Linked DNA regions of Homo sapiens: regions 2, 3, 4 and 5 are each linked to region 1. Evidence: fine-mapped expression QTL. A gene starts in region 1. Each other region holds a variant in brackets. All regions are shown on one strand. Distances are from middle to middle.

Evidence for each region.
Region 2: its variant is fine-mapped to the expression of INSIG1 in whole blood (INTERVAL, PIP 0.97).
Region 3: its variant is fine-mapped to the expression of INSIG1 in blood mononuclear cells (TOPMed, PIP 0.99).
Region 4: its variant is fine-mapped to the expression of INSIG1 in whole blood (TOPMed, PIP above 0.99).
Region 5: its variant is fine-mapped to the expression of INSIG1 in whole blood (INTERVAL, PIP above 0.99).

What each region holds. Positions count from the first base shown.
Region 1 is chr7:155,294,650-155,300,420 of GRCh38, forward strand. It overlaps INSIG1 (insulin induced gene 1), which reads left to right and starts at 3,229. Exons shown (of 6, transcript NM_005542.6): 1 at 3,229-3,310; 2 at 3,610-4,048. The coding sequence starts at 3,637. INSIG1-DT (INSIG1 divergent transcript) reads right to left here and starts at 4,331. Exons shown (of 2, transcript NR_183448.1): 1 at 3,502-4,331. RefSeq lists enhancers at 2,225-2,274, 4,685-4,754 and a silencer at 2,735-3,564.
Region 2 is chr7:155,271,059-155,276,829 of GRCh38, forward strand. No RefSeq gene overlaps it. Among named protein-coding and RNA genes, the nearest start is that of INSIG1, 24 kb to the right of the region's middle. The variant C/CTTT (reference allele first, on the strand shown) is at 2,936.
Region 3 is chr7:155,254,669-155,260,439 of GRCh38, forward strand. No RefSeq gene overlaps it. Among named protein-coding and RNA genes, the nearest start is that of INSIG1, 40 kb to the right of the region's middle. The variant T/C (reference allele first, on the strand shown) is at 3,159.
Region 4 is chr7:155,203,494-155,209,264 of GRCh38, forward strand. LOC124901783 (a long non-coding RNA gene) reads left to right here and starts at 2,211. Exons shown (of 2, transcript XR_007060603.1): 1 at 2,211-2,334. LOC124901786 (a long non-coding RNA gene) reads right to left here. Exons shown (of 2, transcript XR_007060606.1): 2 at 5,639-5,771. RefSeq lists enhancers at 1,773-1,952, 1,963-2,012, 2,043-2,112, 2,143-2,392, 5,322-5,771 and a silencer at 5,466-5,760. The variant C/T (reference allele first, on the strand shown) is at 3,146.
Region 5 is chr7:155,261,289-155,267,059 of GRCh38, forward strand. It overlaps LOC105375588 (a long non-coding RNA gene), which reads right to left and starts at 5,391. Exons shown (of 5, transcript XR_928227.3): 1 at 5,313-5,391; 2 at 4,156-4,793; 3 at 3,171-3,397; 4 at 2,171-2,319; 5 at 1,605-1,644. The variant T/C (reference allele first, on the strand shown) is at 2,023.

The DNA.
Region 1 (5,771 bases):
AAGGTCTTTTCTGGGGTGATGAAAATGTTCTAAAATGGACTGTGATGATAGTTGTACAACTCTGTGAATACACAAAAAAACACTGAATTCACCGTTTAAATGGGTGAATTGCACAATGCATGAATTCGCCCTCACTAAAGCTATTAAAAAATGGCGTAGTCTGTATTGATTGCCTTTAAAAGACGTTCATGATCACTTAATAACTGGTTCCACTAATGTGAAGTTGATCCTATTTGTGTTTTTTTAAACACATTTATGGATAGAAAAAATATTTGGAAATACATACCTCAAAATGTTAACAATGGTCATCTCTAGTTGGTAGGATTATAGACTATTTCTTTAAAATATATTTTTCCACGATGTTTTACAATGAGCATGTGATGCTTTTATATGAAAAAATATATATTTGGTAATCTACTTTATCTTAAGAATATTTCTTACAAATGGTTATTAATGTTATAATAAAAAGAACAGTAAGAACAGACTAAAGGCAAGATTGCTCACTACGTGACACCTCCCAGTCTTTAGGCCTTTATGAGTGCATGATTCTTCCGTATCCGAAAGAGCTACAGCCGTCCTGTGCTCCCTTCCGCCAGCCTGTTCAGTACAGAGGCCACCAGTCTGAGGGTTACTTAGTGATCTGGGAAGGCACGGCGAGGTGTTTAACTCAACAATAGTCAACTCCCCTAGAGTAAGGCCACATCTGTGATGATTTCTGTATTGTGGGGCAATTAAGAACTAAACGGTGCCATCATGAGCAGATTTCCCTAAATGCTGAACTCAGAGTGGCTGACAGGGGCTGAAGAGAATGAACCCCATTATCTTCAACACACGGCCCACGATTAGCAGGGAAACAAAATCAACAACAGCTTTGCTTGAGGATAAGCAAATTTCAACCCCTGAAAATCTTGGAATGTGGTTACTGATATGGAGGCTCGGTCTTCAAAGGGGGTATTCAAGGGGGTAAACTCAAACTCTCCCACTGTCTTTACCCCAGGCTGCATTTCTTCATGGGGCCAGACTCCACAGGCACCTGGGCAAACACACATTGGGAACGCAGTGACAATCTCTACCTACGACTCAGAGGCCACGCTGGAGGCCCTCAGCAGGAACCCCACGGGCAACCTTCCCACATTCCCACGGGACATCTTGGTCGGTGTAAGTGCAACAGCCACAGAGCCACAGGGTGCCTCTATGACTCCAGGATCTTCCATGGTTCATAATGTCCCAGTACAGATGAGAGGAGGGACAGAGTCAGAGAGGCTGGGTTGTATGAACACTGGTTTATTAGGTAGATAGGAAAAGAAGAATGAAGTCAATAGTCTTTAGCAAGCCAACTAGCTCAAGGAATAGACAGCCCCTTTCCATTCTGGAGACAACACATAAATCTATTAATATTAAATATTGTCATGAGGTATGCACCTGCCCACAGGGGTATTATGATGGAAATACTGGGGTAGTCTGCAGGGCCAGGTACAAATGACGGGAAACAAAGCCAGAGAAACTGAAATACCTCTTGGACCCCAGAAGACAGATGTACTGATTTCTGGGATGTCAGGAGCCCAGTGCAGAGCAGCTGGATAGGTCGCTAAGAGCTTTCCCTTCTGCTTATCGGGTCTCACACACCTGGATAAACCAGTTATTGAAAGCTGACCTGCTAATGAGAAGCTTCTGGCACTTGCTGGTGTTTCCTAATTGAATGGGTGACTGCCCCGCATCTCAGGGCCGGGGCTCCCGTGCGGACGCCTCTCCATGAGGTTAGCAGCTTGATTTAGATCAGCGTGCGGGACGGGGAGCTCACAGTGGGGTCGAGGAGACACAGCACAGGCTTCTGAAAGGTGCCCTGTCCATTAGGGAGCACCCCATTTACAGATGGGTCATCCTTCAGCTCACTAGTTTCCCAGCGCATGACAGTGGGTAGCTTTTTTTTTTCCTATTATAAACAAATCTTCGATGTGACTGCGATGATCTACGGATGATCTACGTATCTGGTTGTGTGATCCTCAAGCACTTATGCAAGGTGGAGTGTAAACAATGGCCAAGACCCAAACTGCAATGTTCCCTGAAGTCCAACCTGCTTGGAGTCCTTGGGAACGTGTACAATGGTTAACAGGCTTGAGAGGAGTCAGCTGGGAGAGTGAGAGCGAGACTGCCCTGCAGAGGGGCCGCTGAGGATGGACCCCTGTAGGCCGTCCACACCCACCACGCGTGTCATCCTCAGGAAATGCAACCGGATGCTCGGAATTTCGCCCCTAAAGCGACTCAGGGCAGTCTCAGCTCAGGAAGACTTCTTTTTTTGACCTTCTGGCTTAAAGCCACAACCCCAGGCTGAGGATGCCACATCAACGGCGTTTCCTCGCCACGCTGCAGGCGTGACTCACGTTTCTAAGCCTGCAGGGTCCCCGGGCCAAGCGCGGCTACTGAGAGCACAGCGTCCTCCCTCAGCCCCTGCTCATCTGCACGGAGCAAAGCCGCAGCTTTCTCTGCTGTCAGCGCTTTATACGACTCGGATGTAGGCTCTGAGCGGGCACGGGCCCGCCCTCAGACGGCGACCCGAGGGGCAAACAGGATGGAGGCGCGCTCCCTTGGAGGCTGTGGTCTCGATTTTATCTGCTCCTGGGTGGTGCGGGTGGTTTGCTCTCTAGGCGTGAGCAAAGGCCACAAGGGGCCCGAAAAAATCACCCAAGGATGCAAGCCCGCCATTGCGCTGAGCAGGGGCCTCCCCGCCGCCAGAGCCCGCGCCCCTCCAGGGAGGCCCGCGCGATCGAGACCCGCCGCCTCCCGGCCAGGCGCGGGACACCAGGCGAGGGGAGCCAGGAGCCGGGAGGGGCGGCGCCGGGCCCGCAACCCCACCCTGTCCTGCCTCCGCCTCCTCCCGGCAGGACCGTCCCCTCCCAGGCCCCAGCTCCGCGGCCGCCCACTCGCAGCCGGCCAGTCCCGCTCGGGCCCGCGTGCCCCGCAGCCGCCACGCGCCCCGCAGTCCGTGCCGAGGCTCCCGCCCGAGTGCGCGCGGGCCGGCGGTGGCGTGTGCGCACGTCATATGGGCCGCCGGCCTCCCATTGGTTGCGGCCGCCTCACCAGACCGCGTGCGGACGGGCTCGCGGGCGGGGCGGGGCAAGCTCAGGCCACGCCCCTGGGCGGTGCGCGCGGGCGGTGGGTAGGCCGGGCAGGCTCACGTGATGCGGGCCCCGCGGCCCGCCATATAAACCCGCGCGCCCGCCAGGCGCTGCGGCCGTCCCGGGCCGTGACTCCTCCTTTCCCCCGCCCCGCCTCCGTTCGGAGAGCCGGCGGGCGGGCGCCTCTCGGCCAGGTACGCGGCCGGCTGGGATAGGGGTCGCGGGCGGGCTTTGGTCGCGCAGCAGCCGGTCCTCCCCGGAGGTAGGCGGGCGCGGGCCCTGTTGGGTCTTTGGGACGCGGGTCCCGCTGGGGCCGGGGATGCTGCTCGCTGTGAGCGCGGGTCCCGTCCGCCGCTGGCCCCGGGCGGGCGCACGGGGGTCTAACCTTGGGGGGCGGCGCTGCCGCCTGGCCCGGGTGCCGGGGTTCGCGTCCCGCGGGGCCTTCCTCGCTCTTTGTCTCTTCTGAGTGAACTTGATGACCCCCTTCTTCCAGGAAGCGCCTCTTGGACGCGTGTGACCGATGCCCAGATTGCACGACCACTTCTGGAGCTGCTCCTGTGCGCACAGCGCGAGGCGCCGAGGCCCCCCGCGAGCCAGCGCCGCGGGGCTGGCGGCCAAGGTTGGGGAGATGATCAACGTTTCCGTGTCCGGGCCCTCCCTGCTGGCGGCCCACGGTGCCCCGGACGCTGACCCCGCGCCCAGGGGCCGCAGTGCTGCGATGAGCGGCCCCGAGCCCGGCAGCCCCTACCCCAACACCTGGCATCATCGCCTGTTGCAGAGGAGCCTCGTGCTCTTCTCGGTTGGGGTGGTCCTAGCCCTGGTGCTCAACCTGCTGCAGATCCAGAGGAATGTCACTCTCTTCCCCGAGGAGGTGATCGCCACCATCTTTTCCTCCGCCTGGTGGGTCCCTCCCTGCTGCGGGACAGCAGCTGGTGAGTACCCCTCCTGGTTCTTCTGGAAGTAAAAAGGGTGTCTTTTCGGTTGAAAGTACTTTTCAGCCTATAAGAAACATGCATTTGAAACTGGAACTATCCACAGATTGAAAGTGTGCATCTCCAGTCTTGGGATTTAGAGAAATGAAGGAGGGGTAGAGAGGACCTGGCACCCCCGAGGGCGGGTTCGGGCCACAGCTCTCTGAAGTTTGAGGAAGCACAGTGATGGAGATGAGGCAGGGAGATAATTGGCTGTTCAAGCAGGTGCTGTGCCAAGCTGACTGAGGGCCCTTCCCTCCTGGCGTCCGGGTACAGCCCCAGCTGTCATCCCGCGCCAGCCGCCCCGGATTGGCCGCCTGGGGAACTGGTGAGCAGCGGGACTGAAAGGCCATTGGTCGCGGCAGCAAACATGCTACCCTGCTGGATAACTGAAAACAAACCCGTCACATGGGTTCAGGAGGCGGTTGCCAGGGGAGCAACTTCTCAGCACTTCCTTTTGCCGGGTCGCTGAGTAAACTGTGGTCTGAAGCCAAACCGCCTACACCCTGAACTGTTAGAGCTCTGTAGATTACGTTCTTAAGGAAAAGAGTAACCCCCTTACGGCGTTTAGATTTTCGTACACCCAAGCAGTAGCATAGATGCTGTACAACGTAACACTGAGTCAGTCTGAACTGTGGACACGGGGACTGCTGGGTGTGTGTACTAGACTTTCTTGGCTATCATTGAACCGCTTTTATAGAAATGTTGAGTTGATCTTGGCTCAGCAGATCACTTACTGCTCCTGTAGTCACACAGCATTTGTTTATTTAACGAGCTTGTCGGGTGCTTTCTGCAACCTCAACTCTATAAGCTGTTGAAATGTTAATCCAAAAGTGAGCACCACAAGCCCCTATCCTTAAGCAGCTTAGAGTCTGGTGGGGAAAACAAACCAGTATGTCAGTGACTCCAGTGCAGTGCAGGGAGCATCCTGTTTGCTTTGTGGCTGACGTTTGTCAGCTGACTGCTGACCATAGGCTTCAGATGCTTTGCTGTGTTCATTCCTTACAGCAATACCATGTGTAGCTTCATTTATAGATGTGGCAACTGAATCACAGGTGAAGTCACATCCAAGGGTGCGCAGGTAGAAAGGGGCCAAGCCATCGTTGGTAACTGCTCCTGCTGCCTTGGTAGGTGTGTCTCCTGCACTGTGGAAACACATTGCCTCAGTTGACTCACTGAAAACAGCAAGCAGCAGAGAGGTTTGTAGCAGATTAACAGAGGGCTCCGTGTTGAAGAACTAGGACAGGTGTCTGTAATTATTAAGTAGTGGGTAGAATGTTTTCATATTTGTTCTCGGAGGGACGGGATCCTCTTTCGTTTTTCGAAACACTTTATGTGGCTGTACTAATTGAACATTTTTTGAGAACTATATCTAGATTTAAAATTCCATGTTTCATATACATTTGGCAGAATAGTTTCTTTCCTTTAACCAAAAACTTGATCTTAGAAATGAAATAGTTTAGCCTTCAGTATTTGTAATTGGATCCTCAAGGGTTTCTAGGAATATCTGGACAATTTCTCATACTCTCATATTCTACTTTTTTTTAAACCATCAGCCAAGAGCATAAGTAAAATTTTTCATAGTATGTTTTTTACCTATTTATTTATTAAGCTATAGTGAAGTAAAGTTAATTTGGGGGGTCCATTTTTCAGAACTCCAAAATTAGAACCTGATGAAGTATAA
Region 2 (5,771 bases), 24 kb before region 1:
ATTTCTCAACCACAAAAAAAGAGTTCCACCTGCACGATTTGGTGTAAATGTAAATAATGCCAGAAAAACACAGGGTGACAAGGAACAGAGGAAGCCACAATTTCTTATCAGTTTCTTCCACTGATAGGCCTGACTTTTGATCTCATTGATTATCAACCCCAATACACACATGGAGAATAATGTATCAGTAGAGTTTTTATAGCAACAGAATTGGCCTTCAATGATCATCATAGAAGAGAGCAATTATAGAAATAATTTTAAGGTAATTTCATGATATTTATTTTTTCAGCAAAGTATGTAAGTGTCCTTATCCCTCAATGGATTATGGATGTACTTACAGTGTCAGAAATCAAAAGGACAAAATAAAACAAATGTCACACTGGGTCAAAACCATCATTCTGTCTTTGATGGGAGTCCCAGGGGATATTTCTTAGAAGAATATGATGTCATTACGGAGGCTAAGGCTGCACTCCAGATATTCAGTTTTCTATCAGATATGGATTTATTTAAAACTTTCTTGAATGAACTTATTTTTCTTACTTTACGTAACAAGGTCAAAAAGGTAAACCTCTCAGTGTAAAGAGGTGTAAAACCTTTTTCAAGAGTGAATACATTCCTGTCTTAAAGAAAAAATGAATTAACAATCGATCCCACTCTCAAAGGAAATGATAAAGCTATACTTCATTCAAATGGAAAAGTTGGCCAGGTGTCGCGGCTCCCACACGTAATCCCAGCACTTCTGGGAGGCCAAGGCGAGCCCCCATTTTGGGTGTGGGCAGGACTGAGAGTCCCTTCCACATCATGGAGTCCGGGAAGAGCCAGTAGTGACTTTACAGTTCACAGTGGGGACTCTGCCAAACGCTGCCTTCCCAAGTGGTAAAGGCCAGGTTCAGCCGGGATTGATGTTGTGGGTACCAGGACCCCTGGATACTGGGGGATGAGAGGGAACCTCACCTCTGTAGTTTTCAAAACTCCCACAACCCCAGTCTAACGGTGAGAGAAATGTCAGACACTCCCAGTTGCAGGACATTCTATGACACACCTGCCCTGTCCTCCTGAAAACTGCCAAGGTCCTGAAACACAAGGGAAGCCCAAGCACCTGCCCCAGAGCAGAGGTGACCAGGGAGACACAGGACTCCTCCTGGACGGAATCCTGGAACAGAAAAATCCGGGCAACCCAAACACTGCCTAGAGTGCAGATGACCGCATGCACCAATATTGGCTTCATAGTTTTAACAAATGTGCTATGTCGCAGTGGGTCATGCCTCTCATCACAGCACTTTAGGAGGATCACGTGAGCCTAGGAGCTCAAGACTAGCCTGGGCAATATAGTGAGACCTCATCTCTACAAAAAATCTTTTAAAAATTAGCTGAGCGTGGTGGCATGCACCTGTAGTCTCAGCTACTTAGGAGGCTGAGGTAGGAGGATCACCTGAGTCTTGGAGGTCGAGGCTGCAGTGAGCCATGATTGTGCTACTGCACTCCAGCCTGGGTGATAGAGCTAGATCCTATCTCAGAAAAAAAAAAAAAAAAAAGATAACATCAGGGGAAACCGAAGACATATCTTTTCAACTTTTCTGTAAATCTAAAGCTATCTCAAAATGAAAAGATTTCTTAAACACTATGAGAGGAAGAAAAATAGATTACTACAAAGGAACAAAATTAGACTGAATTCCTGTCCATAGGAACAAAAAGATGACAACATAATGTATTCAGAGATGTGAGGGGAAATAGCTACAAGCCCCTAATGTTGCACCCAGCTGAATTCGCACGCACGTGATGGCAAGACTAAAAAGATTTTCAGACGTCTGAAAACCCTGAGGGTTTATCACCTATGGCTGCTCTCTGAAATAACAAAGGATGCATTTGACCAAAATAAGCAACAACCCAAAGTGAGGGATGAGGCACAGTATGTTGACAAATGTGATTAAAGATTGGCTGTGAAAAATAGCACGAGCCAATTAATAGTGCTTGTTAAAAATGATATAAACTTGCACCTGGTCAACAACAGAGGAGGGGGTTGCTCCCTGCCGCGAGGGAGTGGGCTGAGGTCCTTGGAGTATCTTGGAGGAGGCCTGGATGGTGCACGTTCTGGTCACCCCGCCCCTCTGACCAGAGCAGCTCTTTCCTAGCTCGGCTCTACCTGTGACACGTGCTGATTCGGGACCACAGAATCCTCAGATACAGGAGCAAGCTGCTGTTTCAAGCTGCCATTGGCTTCTGGTTCAGCTGGTATCACTGTTAAAGCAGAATTCCTACTGTAAAAAGTCTGACCTTTGTGGGGAATGGACAGGGGTGGACCAGGGAGGACCGTGCATGGTTCCTCGGTTACTCAACGCTGAAGCTCAGCTTACCCTCTGCAATGGAGAGATGGAGGCTCCGGGGGCCTATCCGCTCTGCCTGAGGATGTGGAAGGCTGCCCCCACCCTGACTGTGTGTCATAGTTTGTTTTATGCTGTTCTAACAGAATATCTAGGACTGGGTAATTTATAAAAAACAGAGATTTGTTTCTTACAGCTCTGAGGGCTGGGAAGTCCAAGGCTGAGGGTCTCATGATTTTTGGGGGCCTTCTTGCTGCATCATCCCACGAGCAGAAGGCAGAAGGCAGAAGGCAAGAGGGCATAAGAGAGAGATGGAGAGAGGGAGCTGAACTGGCTTTTATAACGAACTCACTCCCACGTAGCATACACACTCCCCCAGGGCTGAATCCACTCTCTTGATGAGGACATTAATCCAATCTCAAGGGTAACGTCTTATGACCTAATCACCTCTTAAATGTTCCACCTCTCAACAACGTTGCCCTGGGGCTTAGGTTTCCAACATATGAGCTTTGGGAGACACATTCAAACCACAGTCCAGTGTCATATTGATTGGGGGAAAGAGGCCAGGTGAGCTTCAAGGGTCCAGGGCCGGGGGAGAATGCCCAAAGTCTTGC[C/CTTT]TTTTTTTTTTTTTTTTTTTTGCTCCTCAGCTTATGTTTTCTTTTTCGCAATGTAATTCCTTTCAATTTCCCATAAACTCCTCAGCTTATGTTTTCTTTTTCACAATGTAATTCCTTTCAATTTCCCATAAACTCCTCAGCTTATATTTTCTTTTTCACAATGTAATTCCTTTCAATTTCCCATAAACTCTCAGTAAAAATGTCTTATCTGTGAAAACCTGGGTGTGCTGTGTTTTCAGGAGTTAAGACAGGGGTGGGCTTGGTGAGGTGTGGGGTGAGAGGCCTTTTGAGGGTGAGAAGCCCAGCCGGCAGCAGGGAGGGGTCCTGGAACAGGTACATCTTCCCTGAGAATGGGCAGAAATATTTGCAGAAGGAACCCTGGTCAAAGGCTGCACCTCCCTTATTCATGAAAGAGGGTCTGGATGAGGTCATAAGGCAAGTTGAGAAAATGATCGGCCAGGCACGGTGGCTCACACCTGTAATCCCAGCACTTTAGGAGGCTGAGGTGGAAGGATCACTTGAGCCCAGGAGTTTGAGACCAGCCTGGGCAATATAGTGAGAAACCCGCCTCTACAAAAAATAAACAAATAAAATGGTGGCAGGAGGGCTGGGGAATGTGGGTATGTGGATCATTTACGAAACAGGTGTCAGTTAGCATTTCATTAGAAAAAAAGGTTTCCTAAGTTTACTTTTTAAACATGTAAACTCCTGCTAAGATTATTTCTTAAAGCACATGAATGGATTCAGCCCTGGAGAGAATCCCAAGCTGGCTGGAAGGAGGAAAAAAATATTTTTGAGAGCTAAAAGTGCCAGAAAGATTGAGAAACTTTTTTTTGCTTTCCCTCCCAAACAACATTTCAGGTGGAACAGTGAGTTTTTCCACTTGGTCTTTCCCTTCTTTCTTCTAAACAAAAACGAGCTTTTAAATTGATGACACTCGATATAGAATCAAGACAACAGAAGTTGATCCTATGCCAGCAAATATGTTCTGGAACACTCAAAGCTTTGGAAAATAAATCAGTATTTTGCTTTTCTCAGTTGAGGTTAGGAAGAGAGAACACTTTGTTAAAATGTCAGTAACATCTGTGTTGCAAGGCAGTCACTGACACCAAACACCACTGTGTTGTTGACATCAAACCCCACGCCTGGAGTCCTATGTGCCTCCATCTGTGCCAACCAATGCTTCCCTGCCTGCAACAACCAGCATGTCAAAGACCTGTCCACTGAGAAAGCATTCAAATTTGGGGCATCGATCTATGAACACATCATCAGCCCTCAAATCCTGGGCCTGAAGGACTATGGAAAGGGAAAGAGGAATCCTGTCTGTCTCCCATTCCTGTGGTCCAGTTGGCCCCACCTAACACTGGTTTGGAGCAAAGCAACTCCAAGCTCCAGGGAGTAGTGAGCATCATTGAAGGAGGAATTTTGAGCACCTTTTTGTGCCAGGTATGGTGGGCAACCCAAAGATGACTAGGACATAAATTCAGCCTTCAAAGGATTTATAGTTCAGCAGGGAGGTTCACAAATATTACTAATACCAGTTAATGAGCTTGTAAGAATCAAAAGAAGTGTAGTAGCAGGCCAGGCTCAGTGGTGCACGCCTGTAATCAAAGCATTTTGGGAGGCCGAGGCGGGCAGACTGCTTGAGCCCAGAAGTTTGAAACCAGCCTGGGCACCATGGCAAGACCCCGTCACTATAAAGGATACAAAAATTAGCCAGGTGTGGTGATGCACGCCTGTAGTCCCAGCTACTGGGGGGGCTGAGGTGGGAGGATGACCTGAGCCTGGGAGGTTGAGGTTGCAGTGAGTCGAAATTGCGCCACTGCACTACGACCCCAGGCAACAGAGTAAGACCCTGTCTTGAAAAAAAAAAAAAAGTGTGGTAGCAACCATGAGTGGGAAAAACTGTCTCCTTCCAAGGAGACCAGGGTAGGGCAGTTGAGCTGCACCACGGATAATGTCGCAGTTCTCTCGAGCCTCATTTCTAGAAACACAATTTTAAATTAATAAAAGCTAATTAAATCAAATTTTTGCTTAGTAACATATCACAGTACATAGGAAACTGGGCACACATCTATCCTAATATTTAATGCCTTATGATCACTAAGCGTTTCCTGAAGCGATTCCTTTAAGTGAGCTCCCTGAGAGCAGAAACTGAGCATCGGATGCAGCGTCTAGCCCAATAATGTGCCGACGGAGTGTTTGATTATCTTCTGTCATAAGCACGTCACATGATGCAGATGCTCCATGGTTCAAGGGCTCTCCTGATTTCCCAGTTCACAAGGAAATACATTACAGATAAGGATTTTTAAAATCGTCTCCCAAACTGGCTTACCAACGTCTGAAGGAAAGAGATCCAGGGAAAAGGGAGAGGAGGCGGAGAGGAGACAGCATGATGTATGTTTCTGAATGAATGTTTTTCCGTAGAAGTCTATGCTGACTGAAATCGTGCTCACGTTCTCATGGGAGACAAAGAAAACACACAAGGCAGGTTGCGTCATTTGTGACACGGGTTTCCTTAAAGCCCACTTCTCAAAGTGGGGTCCACAGGCCCACAGCTTCAGCCTCACCTTGGAGCTTGCTGGAAATGCAGAAGCCTGGGCCCCACTCCTGACCTGCTCACCTGCAGAATCTGGGTACCGAGGCCCCAGGGGCTGTGAAGGCACGATTCGGTTTGAGCATCAGCTTCCACTTGCAGATGCCACCGTATCTTAACACATGTTCAAAGAAGCTGAGGGGATTGCAGACAGCCACCTGCCTCCAAGTGTACTGCCCCACAGCCATCCAAAATGACAACCCTGCAGGCTACTTGCAGTGGCCGGTGAAGCCCAAATCT
Region 3 (5,771 bases), 40 kb before region 1:
AGGAGAAAAAAGGAAAGAAAAGGACAAAAAAGAAATGGAGAAGAGAAGCAAGACAGAGGCTGCTCTGAAATGGTTTCTGCACCTTCTCCAATACAAAGGGCAGTAAGATTGAGTAGGATGAGACAGCTATGACTTCCTATTCCCTTTTCCCAGCCCCCAGGCTAAAAAATATGGTGGGTCTGAGGTTCTACTCCCCAACCCCGGCCAACGCTCAAGCCTAGACAAGAGTTGGATGCTCCACGGGAGTAACGTGAGACCCAGGAAGGCCACGTCTCATTTTAACTTCCTCTCCTCTATTCCATACCACAATCTCCGGGGAGCTTCAATGGATGGAGAAAGTTCTATGCCTGCAAGAACTGAATTTACCATCAGTGCCTTCATATTTGTGATAACCTTGTTTTCCCGTTCCTTCAGGGATGCTGCGCTGAGTGAAGATCTTCATGAATACCGTGTGTGAGGCAAGTAAAAGCGGCTCCTTGTGGCTCATTCGCTGCATAAGGTCCCATTCAGAGACTCAAATCCAGAAACTAAACATCATTGAAAAGGAATCCTAACCTCTGGTGCTCCTAACCAGGAGCCGCATTTCTCTAGGACCTCTGCCTTGGCCTTTCCAGCGCCCTGTGCCCACAGCGGCCCTGCTTGAGCCAGTCATAAGCAAGGCCCCCAGCTCCTCCCCAGCCCCGTCCCTCTGGGCTCTTCTATTTCCCCGCCCAGAGGAAAACATTCCCAGCTATACAGAAGCAGATGGGATGGGGGTTACCAGGGAGGCTCCAGAGAAATGGGGAGATGCAGGTCAAGGGGAGAGAGTCGCAGTGAGGTAGGAGGAATCAGTCCAGAGGCTGGCTCGCAGGAAGATCGCAGTTCACAGCACTGCAGCACACCCCGGGACTTCACCAGGAGAGTAGATTTTAGACTCTCTTACCACCAAAATGATGAAGAAAAAGAAGAAGAAGAGGAAGAGGAAGAGGAAGAAGAAGAAGAAGAAGAAGAAGGGGAAAGGGGAAGGGGAAGGGGGAGAGGGAGGGGGAGGGGAAGAAGAAGGGGAAGAGGAGGAAGAAGAGGAAGAAGAGGAGGAGGAGGAGGAGGAGGACCGGGCGGTGATGGATTTGAGAACTTGCCTGACTGTCTTAATCACCATGTCTATGGATATCAACACAGCAGGTCATAAATGTTAAAAATCACGTCCACCCTTAAACATATGCATTTCTTAAAAAGGAAATGCGTCACCAGCCACATGTGTGAGTCGAAATTATCTCATAGACACATTTGTAAAAAGTAAAAGAAGGATGAAACTTAATATTATGCTTTAACCGAGTACATCCAAAATATCAATGAATTACTTATAAGATACATTACTTTTTTTTTCTAAGCAGCCTTCGAAACGCCGTGTGCCTCTTCCACTTGACAGCATGTCTCCATTTGGACTGGCCACATTCTCAAAAGCCGCAAGTGGCTGAGGACTGCCACGGAGGCCACACAGCTCCAGTCCATTCTACTGGTTGTTATGAGTTCAGTGTTAGTGCCGCCCCCACCCCCCAAAATTTGCATGTTGAAGTCCTAACCCCCAGTGTGATGGGCTTGGACATGGGGACGTCAGGAGATAATCAGGGTTCGGTGCAATCCTGGTGATACAACCCTCGTGCTGGGACGAGTGCCCTCATGAGAAGAGGCCAGAGGACTTGCTCTCCTGCCACGTAAGGACACAGTGAGAGGGTGGCCGTCTGCAGCCCAGGAAGACCCTGACCTGCTGGCACCCCGATCTCAGACTCCCAGCCTCCAGAACTGGGGGACATGACTGTCTGTTGTGGAAACTCCCAGTCTGTGGTATTTTGCCACGGCAGCCTGAGCTAAGACACTGGCTTTGCATGGCGAGAGCCTGCAGATGATCCAGCAAAAACAAACTGTCCCTAGCAGGCCTGGGGCAAGGGGGAGGACCGAGCAGACCCCATATCCAGCATCACAGGGTTCGTGAGTGAGCTGTTATGCTTGGTGTTGTGTGCAGAGATTAAATGTCCACAGTCTCTGAGTTCACGAGGCTTATCATGTCATGAGGGACAAGACGATAACTCCGGTTTATGCCTGCGTTACTACTTTACCCACTTTCTGTGCGCATGGAAAATGACAGGAGAGCACAGAAAAGCACCCGTGTAGCCCAGAGATGGACACAAGTGCTAAGGAATCCAGATGGAAATGGAATGACTTCGGAGTAGGGTAGAAAGAACCTACTGCTACTATTATCTACTCTTGAAAACCTAAAAGGTTCGGGGGTTTTTTTTGAAAGGCCTCTCCCAGCACAGATAGGAATTGTGTCCATAGTCAAGGGTCACTCCAGCTTCTGATGCTGCAGCTAATATGATTGGACTTTTGCCCAGATTGTTTCGAATTGCCCCTGGGCCACATATTAATTTGTTTCAGATGCTACCTTTTCCCACTGTTAGACATAAAAGAATCAAAGTGAAAAAACAAAGATGCAAAGCCCTGGGATTGTTAAAAAGTTAATTGCTCAGTGTTGGCCTAAATGACAGAAAAGTCCCCAACTTCCTCAAGGTCAGAATTTTACGTGTAAAAAAGGAAACCTTGAGAATTTAGAAAACACTTGCCTCAAATAAGCATCATTAGCCATTGCACCAGTGGCTTCTACACACCAGGTTAAGCCACATCAAAGAACTCCCACGCTCCTAGACCCAGAAAAATAGAAGAAAATAATTAAACAAAGTAATTGGAAGCGCCTGGCAAGGTCAAAGTACCAGGAAATGTCCTTGAGTAAAAAGAAGCCTGGGACTAAGCTGAGCACATCTAAAATCTCTCATATCCAAAGCCTGTATTTTCCTTGGCACGGGAGATGGAGAACTTGATCCTGACCATTGACAAGGAGGCCAGGAGGCTAAATCCGCCACATGCAGGCTTCCTCCTAATACCCTGACGGGACTTCCGGCTTCTGTAAACTTCTGTGGGAAGTAGGCACACGCCGACTTGGGGAAAGTTGACCAGGGTAAGCCTAGAGGAGGGACAATATTATAAACTGTGTGGAAGGTCCCCTGAGACGTTCACAGACTCAGAGGGAGGAGCGGCAGTGCGGACTTGAAAGCAATCCAGGCGGAGCTGCCAAGAGGCTTAGCCACAAGCACGGATCCAGCCACAGAGCTGGGGCGAGGCTG[T/C]GAGGAGCAAGCCGAGCCATGGCATGCCGCTCGGTGGTGGGGGAATCTGGCGGCACTGTCCAGGAAGAGCCCCTCTGCCTCCCCGGAAAGCTCCCACCGATGATCCACTGAGATGCACAGACACGACCCAGAGGCCGGCTGGGCTGATCCCACACGTGGCTGGTGGCCAAGGGACTCAGCCGTCCACACCCAGCCACACACAGGAGGCTCGTCCTATGAGACCCTCCTAGGATCCTCGCTCCTGATGTGTCCTCATTCGGCCTGAGCAGTCGCGGCCATCTCGCCTCAGGCTGTCCCCATCTTGCCTCCTACCCACCCCCACGGTCTCCCACTGGCTCGAGCCCCTGCCCTCCCCAGGTCACTTCCAGGTCTGTCTCCATCTGGCTGTGCCACTGTGCTCCCAAGGCCTCCCCAGGGAGCCGTCCCTGCAGGGGACATGTGGCATGGTTTTGCTTTGTAGTCGTGATCTTGGAGAGAGACACTATGCCCTAATCTCAAAGACAGTCCCTAAGGCTGTGAATGTCAGGCCCTTACCAGGCCTGGTGGTAGCAACTATTTCAGAGTAGGCACATTCTTTGGGCTCCTTCCAACCACACGCATGAGTAACACTGGGCCTGCCCAGGGTGAAGATCCAGTGGAAGACATCATGTGGATGAATTCAAGCTGGAAAATAATCCCAATGACATGAATATTTCAACCTAAACTTTGATTTGTACCACAATTATATTTTTTCTGATTACAAAAGTAATGCAATGGCATTGTAAGGGATTAAAGCCTTGTTTTATATGTATATAATTTTTTTTTTTTTGAGACGGAGGCTCGCTCTGTCGCCCAGGCTGGAGTACAGAGGCGCGATCTTGGCTCACTGCAAGCTCCACCTCCTGGGTTCACGCCATTCTCCTGCCTCAGCCTCCCGAGTAGCTGGGACTACAGGCACCCACCACCATGCCCGGCTAATGTTTTGTATTTTCAGTAGAGATGGGGTTTCACCGTGTTAGCCAGGGTGGTCTCAATCTCCTGACCTTGCGATCCACCTGCCTCGGCCTCCCAAAGTGCTGGGATTACAGGCGTGAGCCACCATGCCCGGCCTATATGTATATAATTTTTGTAGACTTGTTCTTTCAATATACCTCCAGGAAGAAACACAGCCTAAATTTACATGAATATGTTTCTGGACTTCTTTCTTCTCCTCCTCCTCCTCCTCCTCCCCTCCTCCTCCTCCTCCCCTCCTCCTCCTCCTCCTTCCCTCCTCCTCCTCCTTCCCTCCTCCTCCTCCTTCCCTCCTCCTCCTCCTTCCCTCCTCCTCCTCCTCCCCTCCTCCTCCTCCTCCCCTCCTCCTCCTCCTTCTTCTTCCTCCTCCTCTCTCTCTCTCTGTCTCTCTGTGTCTCTCTCTCTTCTCTGTGTGTGTGTGGATGTGTGTGTACTCACACAACAGAGCTCTGGAGATGCATGCAGCACACGCATATGTAGATATAACCACTATAAGGACAATATCCTAAGAGCTGAGTGTCCAGGTCACTGATTTTCCTTTCCTTGTTTCGTTGCAAACTCAGGGTGTCACACCTGGGCCGTGTGGAGGCTGAGGGATGGGTGAGGACAGATGGGGATGGGCACCCTGCTGTTGTCTGAGGGCCGTCAGCAAGTCTCTCAATTGGTGATACGTATGGACCTGGGTCCTCATGAGAGCCATCCTAATCTTTTCTCAGTGATGCAACACCGTCTGTTTCCATGCCATCAGTCTTATTACAGGATGATGGCCAAGGAGCTCATCTGAACTGCCAGGTGAACAGTGGGGCCCTACCACATCCCCATCTACCCATAGCTTGGTTTGGGTTCACGGTGCCAAAATCATATCCCCAAGTTATAGTATAGGCTCATTGCCAAGGGAGTTTTCTTGTAAACACTCCCTGGCCCTGGGAACCCTTCTCTGACCTAAAGGAGGCATCGCTGGACTAGGTTCCGGGTAATGCAATCACCTAGTGACCCGTGTCCCCAGCCTGTTCTCAGGTCCTTTGCATTTTCCTCAATGTCCTTCCTGCTCATGCCCTCAGGCCCCTGCTTTTGGGATGTGTGGCCAGCAAGCCCAGTGCAGGAAGTACTGAGCTGCCGACTGCCACTCCACAGAATCACAGGACAGAGCCTCCCAGAGGCAGTAAGTGCAGCGTGGGCTGGAGGAGGCCACCTGCTCCGTTGTGATGAGGGCTGGCCTCTGCTGTGCTTTGATTTATGAGCAATCATGTGTTCACAAAGTACCTACTACTATGTGACCAGTGCAGCAGCCAGCAGGGTCTGCATAACAGTGGCTGCAAGCTCTCCACCCAGACTCCTGCCCTCGTCCATGGGGATGAGGTTGGGGCAGCCTCCATGCAGTTAGCACCTCCTTCCACTCTCCCCCTCCAGCCAGCAGGAGCCACAGTGGGCCACAAGGAGGACTCTGCCCTGAAAGTGGCAGATCCCAGCCCAGGAGAACCTGGGTCCCTGGACGGCAGCCTGGGCCTGCACCCCTGACCCGGGCCGGCCCCCAGGAGCTGTCTTGTCAGCGAGCAGCACCCACGTTTTCAGGTTTCAGCAGCTTAGCTTTATCCTGACCGATGCTTGGCACTCAGGACACGC
Region 4 (5,771 bases), 91 kb before region 1:
GGCCTATTCCCACCCGCACCAGCCTGGAGAGAGCTCTGTCAGGCTGAGGTGGAATTTTCCGGAGCCCCGGGGGCTGTGCAGGTGCGGGAGGGAGAGTCTGTCAGGCTGAGGTGGAATTTTCCAGAGCCCTGGGAGGAGGATTCCCAGCATCAGGTGAGCGGTGACTTCTGACGCACTGTGGAAGCTACAGGCAGGGCTGAGTCGGCGGCAAGGAGCAGGACCTCCTGTTAGAAAGTCCCAGAAAGAAACAAACCCTCGGGGACCACCCAGAAGGCCAGGATCATCCGAGGGGCCGCCCCGTGGGGTCTCCATGGCTGCACGTGCATCCTGAGGCCCAAGTCCTCCTCACAGTGGCTTCACTGGGTGCTGGGACTCTGCAGGGACCGAGCTGTTGGTGCTCCAGCATTCAGGGAGCTCCTGCCTTGGGGTGGACAGACAGCAGGTAAAGAAGCCTCATGCAGGGCAGCAGGGGATACCCTGGGAAGGAAAGTGAGGCAGGAAACAGACACTGGGCCAGTGGCTCCTGGTGAAGGGATGGGCACTCGGGGATCTCGGGGAGGGTCCAGGTGAGGACAGCAAGGGCAGAGGAGCCTGTGGGAGGGGTAAGCACGAGGGAGGCCGAGGCCCTGAGATGTGAGGCCCGCATCCTGCTGCAGGCGCTCTGCCTCCAGCAAGAGGTGGCTCTGGGGGACAGCTCTCCATGGGGGACAGCTCTCCATGGGCTTGGACACCCGTGCTCCCAGACAACAGCTTCTGCCGTGCTCCCAGATGAGAGCCAGAGCCCTGCCTATCGGGAGGCCACACTCATGCCCAAGACTTCTAGGCCTCAGCAGTGCTCCCAAGGGTGTGGCACCAGGTGAAGCAGGGCAGGTGTGTGGACCAGGTGTGCTGGGGGGGCAGAGGGAGGGCAGCACCCCGTGGGCCAGCTACCTCTTGTGTGGGCACACAGCACCTGTGCACTCAAGGTCACCCATGTGCACGCCGCCTCTCCACTCCTGGCAGCAGCCACCCTCGCACCATGTGGCTCTGTGTCCTGGCTCCACAGGGCTCCCTGCTGCTGCCAGGAGCAATTCCTGGAGTCCAGCATGTGGAGGTAGCAGGGCCTCTGCTGGCTTTGGGACTGGACCAGCAGCACTGCAGGTGCCCTGGCTCTCCCACCTGGGCACACCTGAGGCCTCTCGCCCTTATCTCCCAGGGCCCTAGCGGTTCCCCTCCACCATCCCATCCCAAAGCCTCACCTTTCCAGTGTAGCCCCAGGCCCCAGAGCAGGTGTATCCACTTTATTGTACACACAGCATTTGACTCAGAGCCCAAGACATGTATCTGATAGGAATAGGGCTGCTCTGGATGAGGGAGGGGGTGCCCAGCCCCCCAGCCTGGCTCCCCAGCACGCCCACTGCCCTGGCTCTGCGGAGCACCTTCCAGACCATATCAGAAGCCCTCAGGGAGGCCCCTGGACCCTGACATCCCCGAGACCCCCTGAGGGACCCACTTTGCTAGCTGCATGTCTGTGTCACACGGAACTGTCTCCATGCTCTGCAAGCAGGTGGAATGCAGGAGCAGGCAGGAAAACCCAGCTCTTCCAAGTCAGACACTGGAGAGCTCTGCAGACACGAAGACAATGCCATGCCTCCCCCTAAATGCTTTTTGTTTTGGAAAATATAGCTGTTCGTCATAAGGTATTTACGTTGACGTATGACAGGTTTATGATTGTTTTAATGAATTAATAGGTATTTTAAATGCTCTTAGTTTCGATTTCTAGTGTTTCTCATTGGTGATTTCTAACGTGGCATCGTGGCTGCATTCAACCCCCATAAACGCATGCTCCGTGGTGGCCTCCATAGCTCTTCAGACCCAATGTGTGAGTCCCGGGCTCCAGATCGTGTCTCAGCCCCTCCCTGCTCCCTCAGCCAATAGCCTGTGTCCGTGTGGCCCCTCCCCCGAGCTTCCCAGTGACGGAGGAAGGCAGACGCCGCGTGCTTTCCAGGCGCTGTCCTAAGCCCTTTGCAGATATGGAGCCACTTGACCCTCCTATAACGCGTGCAGTGGGTCCTATTACCCCCCCATTTACGGACCAAGGGCAGGGAGGTGGAGACACTGGCTGGAGGCCGCGCAGCAGGGAAGTGGCAGTCAGGAGGCAGCCCAGGCCCTCCCATCCGACTTCAGAGGCCAGACGCACGCCTTCTAGACGCTGACTCACAAGCCAAGTCACTCCTTCCTGACACTCACGCCACCATGTCCTCCCCAAAGTGCATTTGCATTTTAACAGCCATCTTCCGTGAGCTGACTCTGTGGTTTTCAGTCAGTGGTTTCCAGTCGGCTATTTGTCATAAGGTATTTACGCTGACGTATAACAGGATTATGAGTGTTTTAATGAATTAATAGGTATTTTAAATGCTATTTAAATGTACTACCTCAAAAGGCTGAGAAATGTGGGGCCTCTGTGTGGATGTGTCAGTGTGTGTGTCTCTGTGTGTGTCAGCGTGTGTGTCTGTATCAGTGTGTGTGTCTGTGTGAGAGTGCGAGAGTGTGTGTCCGTGAGAGTGTGTCAGTGTACGTGAGTCTGTGTGTCGTGAGTGTGTCTGTGTGTGCCCGCGTGTCAGTGTGTCTGTGTGTGTCAGTGTGTGTGAGTGGTCGAGAGTGTGTCCGTATGTGAATGTGTCAGTGTTTGTGTGTGTGTGTCAGTGTGACAGAGTGTGTGTGTTTGTGCCTGTGTGTCAGTGTGTCTGTGTGTGTCATTGTGTGTTTCTGTGTGTGAGAAAGTGTGTGTCCGTGTGTGTTAGTGTCTGTGTGTGTGTGTGTGAGTGTGTGTGTGCACGCATACACACGCATATAACTCTGCTGTGGCTTCTATAACAAAGTACCGTGGACCGAGCAGCTTGAACAACAGAAACTCCCTTCCCCGCAGTCCTGAGGTCCGGAAATCTGAGATCACGGCGTGGGCAGGGCTGGTTCCTCCTCAGGCCCCTCCGTGGCCTGCAGACGCCATCCTCTCCCTGTGTCCTCACGTGGTCATCCCTCTGTCAGCGTCTGCTTCCCAACTTTTTCTTCTTAGTCCGTTCTCACCTGGCTATAAAGAAGTCCCTGAGGCTGGGTAATTTATGAAGAAAAGCGCTTTAATTGGCTCAGGGATCTGCAGGCTGTA[C/T]GGGAAGCGTGACGTCATCTGTCTCTGGGGTGGCCTCAGGAAACGTCCAGTCATGGCGGAAGAAGAAGGGGAAGCCAGCTCATCACAGGGGGAAGCAGGAGTGAGAAAGAGGAGGGGGGATGTGTCACACACTTTTAAAAGACCAGGACTCCTGTGAACCCAGGGCTCGAGCTCACTTATCACCAAGAGGCTAGCCCAGCCATTCATGAGGGATCCACCCCCATGATCCAAACACCTCCCTCCAATCCCCACCTCCAACACTGAGGATCACATTTCCACATGAGATCTGGGCAGGGACAAATACCCAAACTGCATCCTAAAGACACCGGTCAGATTAGATTAGGGCCCACTCCAAAGCCCTCATCTTAGTTTAGTTACCTCTTGAAAGACCCTGTTTCCAAATACAGCCACATTCTGAGGTCCTGGGGGTTAAGACTTCAACATATGGATTTGGGGGATACAACAAACGCCATTTGGGGGTCACAGTGACTGAGGGTGCTCCTGGATTTTGTTGGGGTGATGGTTGAGCAAGGTTGCTATTCACCCTTCAGTAGGTAGGACACCCCCCCAAGGGATATCTACCCAGCAAAACGCCAACAGTGTGCTCTCTCAGGAAGACTTCCTGAAAACAAAGAGCCAGGTAGAATCTCAGCACACGGCAGGTCGCTGGTTGATGTTTTCAAGAAGCAGCTTTGGGGGTTTCCTCAAATCCATCCAATGAGATTCCATCTCTTTTATCTGAGCATCTAGGATGTTCAAGGAGAAACGGCTCCGCTTTTTCCTGCTTCTCCAGGAATCCAGCTTAGTGGGTTTACCTGCCTCTGTCCAAGGTGCTCCGTTGTGAGTAGCCCCTGCCTCTGGGTGTGCAGGTGATTTGGGGACTGAGAGCTGAGGCGCTAAAGTTAAAATGGCTTAACGTGTGTGACTGTGTGTGAATGTGTGTGTGTACGCGTGTGTGCGTGCGTGTGTGTGTCTGTGTGTGGGAATGGGTGTGAGTGTGTATGAGTGTGTGTGGGAATGGGTGTGTGTGGGAGTGCATGTGTGTGGGAATGTGTGGGGGAATGGGTGTGTGTGGGAATGGGTGTGCGTACGTGTGTGTGTGGAAATCGGTGTGTGTGTCTTGTGTGGGAATGGGTGTGTGTGTGGGAATGGGTGTGTGTGTTACAGTGTGTGAGTGTGTGTGTGTGGGAATGGGTGTGAGTGTGTGGGAATGTGAGTGTGTGTGTGGGAATGGGTGTGAGACTGTATGAGTGTGTGTGGGAATGTGTGTGTGGGAATGTGAGTGTGTGTGGGAATGGGTATGTGGGAATGGGTGTGAGTGTGTGGGAACGTGAGTGTGTGGGAATGGGTGTGGGGGGAATGTGAGTGTGGGCATGTGAGTGTGTGAGTGGGAATGGGTGTGAGTGTGTGTGTGGGAACATGAGTGTGTGGGAATGGGTGTGAGGGGGGAATGTGAGTGTGGGCATGTGAGTGTGTGAGTGGGAATGGGTGTGAGTGTGGGTATGAGTGTGTCTGTGTGTGGGGAATGAGTGTGTCTGTGGGGAATGGGTGTGAGTGTGTGTGTATGACTCTGTGTGTGGGAATGGGTGTGAGTGTGTGGGGGGAATGTGAGTGTGTGGGAATGGGTGTGTGTGTATGAGTGTGTCTGTGTGTGGGGAATGGGTGTGTGTCTGTGTGTGTGGGAATGGGTGTGAGAGTGTGTGTGTGTCTGTGGGGGAATGGGTGTGTGTGTGTGTGGGAATGGGCCTGAGTGTGTCTGTGTGTGGGGGGAGGGAATGGGTGTGTGGGGGGAATGGGTGTGTGTGTGTCTGTGTGTGGGGGAATAGGTATGAGTGTGTATGTGTGGGGGGGAATGGGTGTGTGTGTGTGTGTAGGAATGGGTGTGTGGGGGAATGTGAGTGTGTGTGGGAATGGGTGTGTGTGGGAATGGGTGTGTGGGAATGGGTGTGTGTGTGGGAATGGGTGTGAGTGTGTGTGGGAATTGTGTGGGGATGGGTGTGAGTGTGTGTGGGGGAATGTGTGTGGGAATGTGTGTGTGGGGATGGGTGTGAGTGTGTGTGGGGGAATGTGTGTGGGAATGTGTGTGTGGGAATGGGTGTGAGTGTGTGGGAATGTATGTGGGAATGGGTGTGTGTGGGGGAATGGGTGTGTGTGGGAATGTGTGTGTGGGAATGGGTGTGAGTGTGTGTGGGAATGTGAGTGTGTGTGGGGAATGGGTGTGTGGGGGGAATGTGTGTGTGGGAATGGGTGTGTGTGTATGAGTGTGTCTGTGTGGGAATGGGTGTGAGTGGGGAATGTGAGTGTGTGTGGGAATATGTGTGTGTGTATGAGTGTGTCTGTGTGTGGGAATGGGTGTGAGTGTGTGAGAGGCTCTTTCTCAAGACTGTAGGAGTGGGGGCTTCTCCATGGGGACACTTTCAAAGGAGGAAGAAAGAACAAAGGAAGAAGGGTGGATTTCACTCCTTTCCTTGGAAATGAGTCATGACTGAACAATGAATTTGGGGAAATTTTATTGAATTTCATGCCACGGCCTTGGTGCAGGCACCACATGATCTACTACATTCGGGGCACATAGGTGACGCCCCCCAGCTGTGAGGGCAGGTGCCCCGAGACTGGGTGTGTGCTG
Region 5 (5,771 bases), 33 kb before region 1:
TTTCAGTTTAGCGTATTCTTCTGTGTTCAGTGCATATTCCCAACACGGTCTAGAACGCCCTTTACTTCACAAGCACAATTCCATAGTAAAACTTAATAATGGTGCTCTGGGCCAGGCCATTTGATCTGGCTGGACTGTGTTCCCTGGCTGTGCCCTGAATGTGTCACCTGCAGCCACACAGGGCGCCCTCTCATTCTTGCACTGACCCAGCTCCTAAACAGCAGCTTTCCAGCAGTGGTTCCTGGACTTCCAGAGAGCTTTTCTGCCACAGTGGACATTGCCATCCTTTTTTTGGCCACCAGGCATCTGAAATCCTTCCCAGTGTTTGGTGAATCCTCCAACTCGTGACACAGGATCTGAACGTAGCTACACTACATTCAGAAAGTGCAGAGGCCAGCACTCGCTTTGCCCACAGGGGCACTCGCACCCATGAGCCTAGCTGCAAGCCTACCCTGCCGGGAAGCTAGTGACTCCCAGAACTCAGACGGCTCAGACACCACCCTGGATGGCCACGCCGTTCCCATGGGCAGAGGTGTCAGCAGGTCTAGCGGCAGCCTGCAGCCTCTAGCCTGAGGTCCCTTCTGTGTGTGCAGCCAGTAGTGCTGGTGGTAGAGACTTCCCTGAGCGGGTCCCAGTGTCCTTTTTCCCAGCATCTTTCTCGCTGTGGTAGGCTAGGAAACTCGTTCTCCTCCCCACGCCACCTCCATTCCTTGAGCTAGACAATATATAATTCTTTTAATAATCGCTTTAATAATTTAAAGGAATATTTAAATACTCTTTTAACAATTCCTTTTCTGCTTCAGTTACCCAGAGCTGTGTTCTGCCACCTCCCACTGAGAACCGTAAGTGGTTCTTTCCTCCGTAAGCACATACTCCTGTTTGACATGAAAATGTCAGCAGAGATTTTTCGGCGTGATCTAAAGAATGCGATCTTGGCGGCCGTCTACCACACAAGGAGGAGGGCACGTGTGGATTTCCTGGCCTTGCACAGTTGGTGATGAAAGCGGAGTTGCCTAGTGATCAGCTGACTTGTGATCAATTACAATAATGATGGAATTTCAAGGTCAATGTCGTGCTGGTTTTTTTTTTTTTGCGAGCTCATCTTTTCTGCTTAAGGAGAAAATGCTAGATAAATGCATCTCCATGTGGGCCTGGACCTCTCCATGTTGCTCTGTCTTGTCTGTGGATGTTTGACAGAGACCGGAAGACCTGCAGACCAGCCTGCCAACACCGTCTGTCAATGGGGTGCCACTTTCACGGCCCTCCCCTTCCCATCAGCCTTAGCCCAAATCACCCTCCAAAATCACCAACCATAGGAAACATCTTTAATGTAAACTAATTCCTTCACACTGAAAATGTTTACAATTTAGCTGGGTGCGGTGGCTCACACCTCTAATCCCAGCACTTTGGGAGGCTGAGGCGGGCAGAAGGCTTGAGGTCAGGAGTTCAAAACCAGTCTGAGCAACATGACGAAACCCTGTCTCCACAAAAAATTTAAAAAATTAGCTGAACATGGTGGCACATGCCTCTGGTCACAGCTACTTGGGAGGCTGAGGTGGGTGGATTGCTTGAAGCTGGGAAGTTGAAACTGCAGTGAGCCAAGATTGCACCACTGCACTCCAGCCTGGGCAGCAGAGAAGGACCCTGTCTCAAAACAAACAAACAAAAACCAAAAATGAAATAAAATGCTTACTGTCGGCCCCCTTTCTCTGCAGAGGTCCAGATGAGGAGCCTCTAATCAAGGTGGTGACTGGGCCACACAGCCACGCCCTTCCCTCGGGGTGAGCCCTTCCCTAGGGGTGAGCCCTTCCCTGGGGTGAGCCCTTCCCTCGGGGTGAATCTTTCCCTTGGGGTGCACCCTTCCCTCGGGGTGAGCACTTCCCTCTGGGTGCAGCCTTTGCTCGGGGTGAGCCCTTCCCTCGGGTTGAGCCCTTACCACAGGGTGCGCCCTTCCCTAGGGGTGAGCCCTTCCCTCGGGGTGAAACTTTCCCTTGGGGTGCGCCCTTCCCTCAGGGTGAGCAC[T/C]TCCCTCTGGGTGCAGCTTTGGGGTGAACCCTTCCCTCGGGGTGCAGCCTTCACTCAAGGGTGAGCCCTTCCCTGGGGGTGCAGCCTTCGCTGGAGGGTGCATCCTCCCCTCGGGGTGCGCCGTGGCACATGTTGCCTCTCCACTCACTGCTCTTTCTTGGCTGCCTCCTTCCTGGTGAGTCCTTTCCCGCTGTTGCTCACTATCTGCGGATTTCTGATCACTTGTCTTCCCTCTTGAGCTTGGTGAACAGACCAGGAGGAGGGCACAGGATGACCCCCATGGCTCCCCGAACATTTCTAAGACCAAAACCAAAAAGCCCAAGGGGAGAGGACCGGACCCCACTCAGGGCTCAGAAAGCTGATGCCTGGCGCCCCGCAGTGGCGTGGGGTGGTCTTGCGTGGCTGTGGACCCCTCAACCAGGCAGGCGAGAGCAGGGAGGGAAGTGGGTACAAGTGAGCAAGTGTGTGAGTGTGTGGGAGTATGACTGTTAGTGTGTGTGTGTCTGAGTGTATGTGTGACTGTGTATGTGTGTCTGAGTGTTAGTGTGTGTGTGAGTGCGTGGGAGTTTGTGTGTCTGAGTGTAAGTATGTGTGTCTGAGTATATGTGACTGCGTATGTGTGTCTGAGTGTTAGTGTGAGTGTGTGTGTCTGCGTGTTCGCGTGTGTCTGAGTGTATGTGTATGTGTCTGAGTATGTGTGACTGTGTATGTGTGTCTGAGAGTTAGTGTGTGTGTGTCTGCATTTAGTGTGTGAGTGTGTGTCTGAGGGTTAGTGTGTGTGTCTCAGTGTTAGTGTGTGGGAGTGTGTGTGAGTGTGAGTGGGTGTCTGAGTGTTAGTATGTGTCTGAGTGTTAGTGTGGGAGTATGTCTGAGTGTGTGTATCTGTTAGTGTGTGAGCGTATGAGTGTGAGTGTGTGCATGCTGGGAAGAGACATGGGCTAAGAATAAAACACTTTCCCAGAGTGTAGCAAATAATAGCAAAGTTCACCCATCAGTTCTCCTGCCTTAAGCAACTATGGGCTTTCACTCTTCAACTTTCTTCTCTCTCTCTCTCTCTCACACACACACACACACACACACCATGAGACCTCTTCTGAGCTCTCCTGGCAAGGTTGGGCTCCCTGCTGCCCCCATATCCCCTCACTTACACCAAGTTCCGTCCCCCTGACTGGAATGTTTGGGGTGAGAGCCCCTCCTTTGTCCTATTTGCACCAGCGTCAGCTGAACGTGTTAGGAAGTGTGACCGCCGCCTCTCATGGACCCCAGAACAACCTCCTGTTCGCACAGGGGCCCACTCCTAATCTTCTGGAGTTGGCATCATGGGAGATGACCAAACTCTCCTGAAAAGTCTTGCGCAGTACCATGATCAATAAAACTAGGAGAGTATAACAGAACGCTCTGAATTTGGAGCCAGAAAACCTTGATTCAGGTCCTTCATGTGGCCTTGGGCAAATCACTTAACCTTTCTGAGCCTGTACCCTCAACCGTATCTTCCTGTTTCTTAAGATCAATGTGAGGTTTAATGATAAATAACTCTTAAAAGGGCTTTGCATCATGCTTGGGCATTTTGGCTATTCAAGAACCTCGCGCTGCATGAAGAAAGATGCATTCTGTGTGACTCTGGAGGCTTTTCGAGCAGAGAGAAACAGCAGGTTCACAGGTAAGAACCAGGAAGGCCATGTGGGCTGGGAAGATGGTGAGGCAGCTTTGAATGCAGCAGTGGTGTGGGGGCACAGGGTAGGGGGAGGTTAGATATGCAACTGACTTCAGAGTTTCCTTCTCAGCTTCCCTGGATGGGAGTTAGTGTTAGGATCATAAGTCAGAATACAATTGGGATCGTAGAAATTTCCCAATTCTAGTCACTCTGTGCTCAGGTACAACTACTTAAGCACGATCATTGTCTCGGTCCAGGACACATCCATTCACACATGCACACACACACGCCATGTGTGCACACATAGGTATATACAAGCATTACATGCACACACCCCCACATGTATATACACATATAGACACACATGCACACACCCACATGTGCATGCACACACCCATAAACAGGCACACACGTGTGAGCACAGGCATAAACATGCATACACTTACGCACACACATGCATACATGCCCCTTAAACTCACTGCAGAGTCTGAAGAGAGGTTGTTGACTTGAGGAGCAGCACTGTGCGTTTAAATGAGGCAAAAGAAAGTTGACCACCCCCAGCCTGACCAGGAGTTGTGGTTGGCCAGGAAAATAATATTTGGAGCTCATGAATAAAGAAGTCATGATGACTGAGATGGGGGCACTCGTCTCCACCCAAGGCACCTGCCAGGCAGTTGCATCACTACCTCGCCCCTGTGCCCCAGGGCTGTGAGCCCTCCTGGCTGCCAGCAGTGCCTGAACTCAGAACCAACAGGACCTTGGGGCACAGCTCCGTGGCCCTTTCAGTGACCGCCCTCTTCTTCCTCTTGCAGCCCTCGGCTTGTTCCTCCTCCTGCTCACACTTCACCCTTCACCCTGGCTGACCTGCGTGTGCCAAACACGGTTGTGAGCTCCCACAGAACGAGGAGAGGCAGCCCGTTCCGCTGCATCTCCCCAGGGCACCGGCAAGGACAGGCAAAGCCTCGTTGACTGAATTCACGGAGAGCAGAGACTGCGCCCAGGCCTCGACCCCAGGACTTCTGTGTTGTGTGAGACGTGCTAGTGATGCCGCTTTAAGCTCTGCTTTGAAAATGGTCCTTTGACAGATTCTGAATGCAAGTGGCCTCCTTACGAGATCCTGCAGAATAACAAGGACAACTTATCACAACTTCCTCATTGTAAAATCCAGCTCAGATTGCAGTTGAAGATCACAAATGCTCTCTGTTTCACTTTGCGATGTTTGTGGTGTCTAATACAGCAACACAAGCCTAGGTTTCTGTGCAAAGACTTCCTTATTGTTTATTTACTATCCACTTCCTCTGAGCAGGACTGATCGACTTTTCACTTCTTAGGCCCCTGGTGGGTGGCCTAACATTGGGAACGTCTCTGGGAATCAATGGCCTCCCATGCTATTGCCCTAAGAGGAAAAACTATGGACCCATTTCCGGCTCGTGAGTTGGAAGTGGAGGTCTGCTGGCGGCCTTTGTCTCCCTGCCTTCCCCTCCTGTCACTGGCTGGAACATGTGCTTGATGCCTGGCGTTCAGCAGCCCTGTTGAAACTGTGAGGTGACTGGCAGGTGTCAGAAGGAAAGCAAACTGCCTAGTGACGGCAGAGGCTGCATGCACTCCACTGCCCTCTGCTCCACTGTCCACTCACCTCCGCTGGCTCTGTGCCCCAAGGCCCTGGCCTCTATGGCCGGCATCCATGGGCTTCCCTATCCTCTGGCCTCCAGGTGGATTCAGTCACAGCAGAAGCTGGGAGGGGCAGCTGGAGGTTGGAGAAACATGAGGCTAGTGTCCAGTTCCCTCCCTGGCCGAGGCAGCCGTGGAGGTGCTCCTTTCCAGGAAGCCAGCACTCCTTTCCGGTGGTCCTGCTCTGACCACGGCAGCTCGAGCTGAGCACAGAGTGACGGCTACAGCTCCCTCCACATCTGGCCTGGGGTGGGAACAGCTCCTGGATGCTTCTTCTTCCTGTGCTGGCATCCCTTAGTCCCTCCCACCTTTTTTTTTTTAATATAATAAACCTGCTTTGTTCAATCCTCCTCAACCACCCACTGAAGCAAGCCCTCCTTTCCTTGCCGGGACCCAGAGAGCTGCTGGGAAAGAAAGGGTGGGC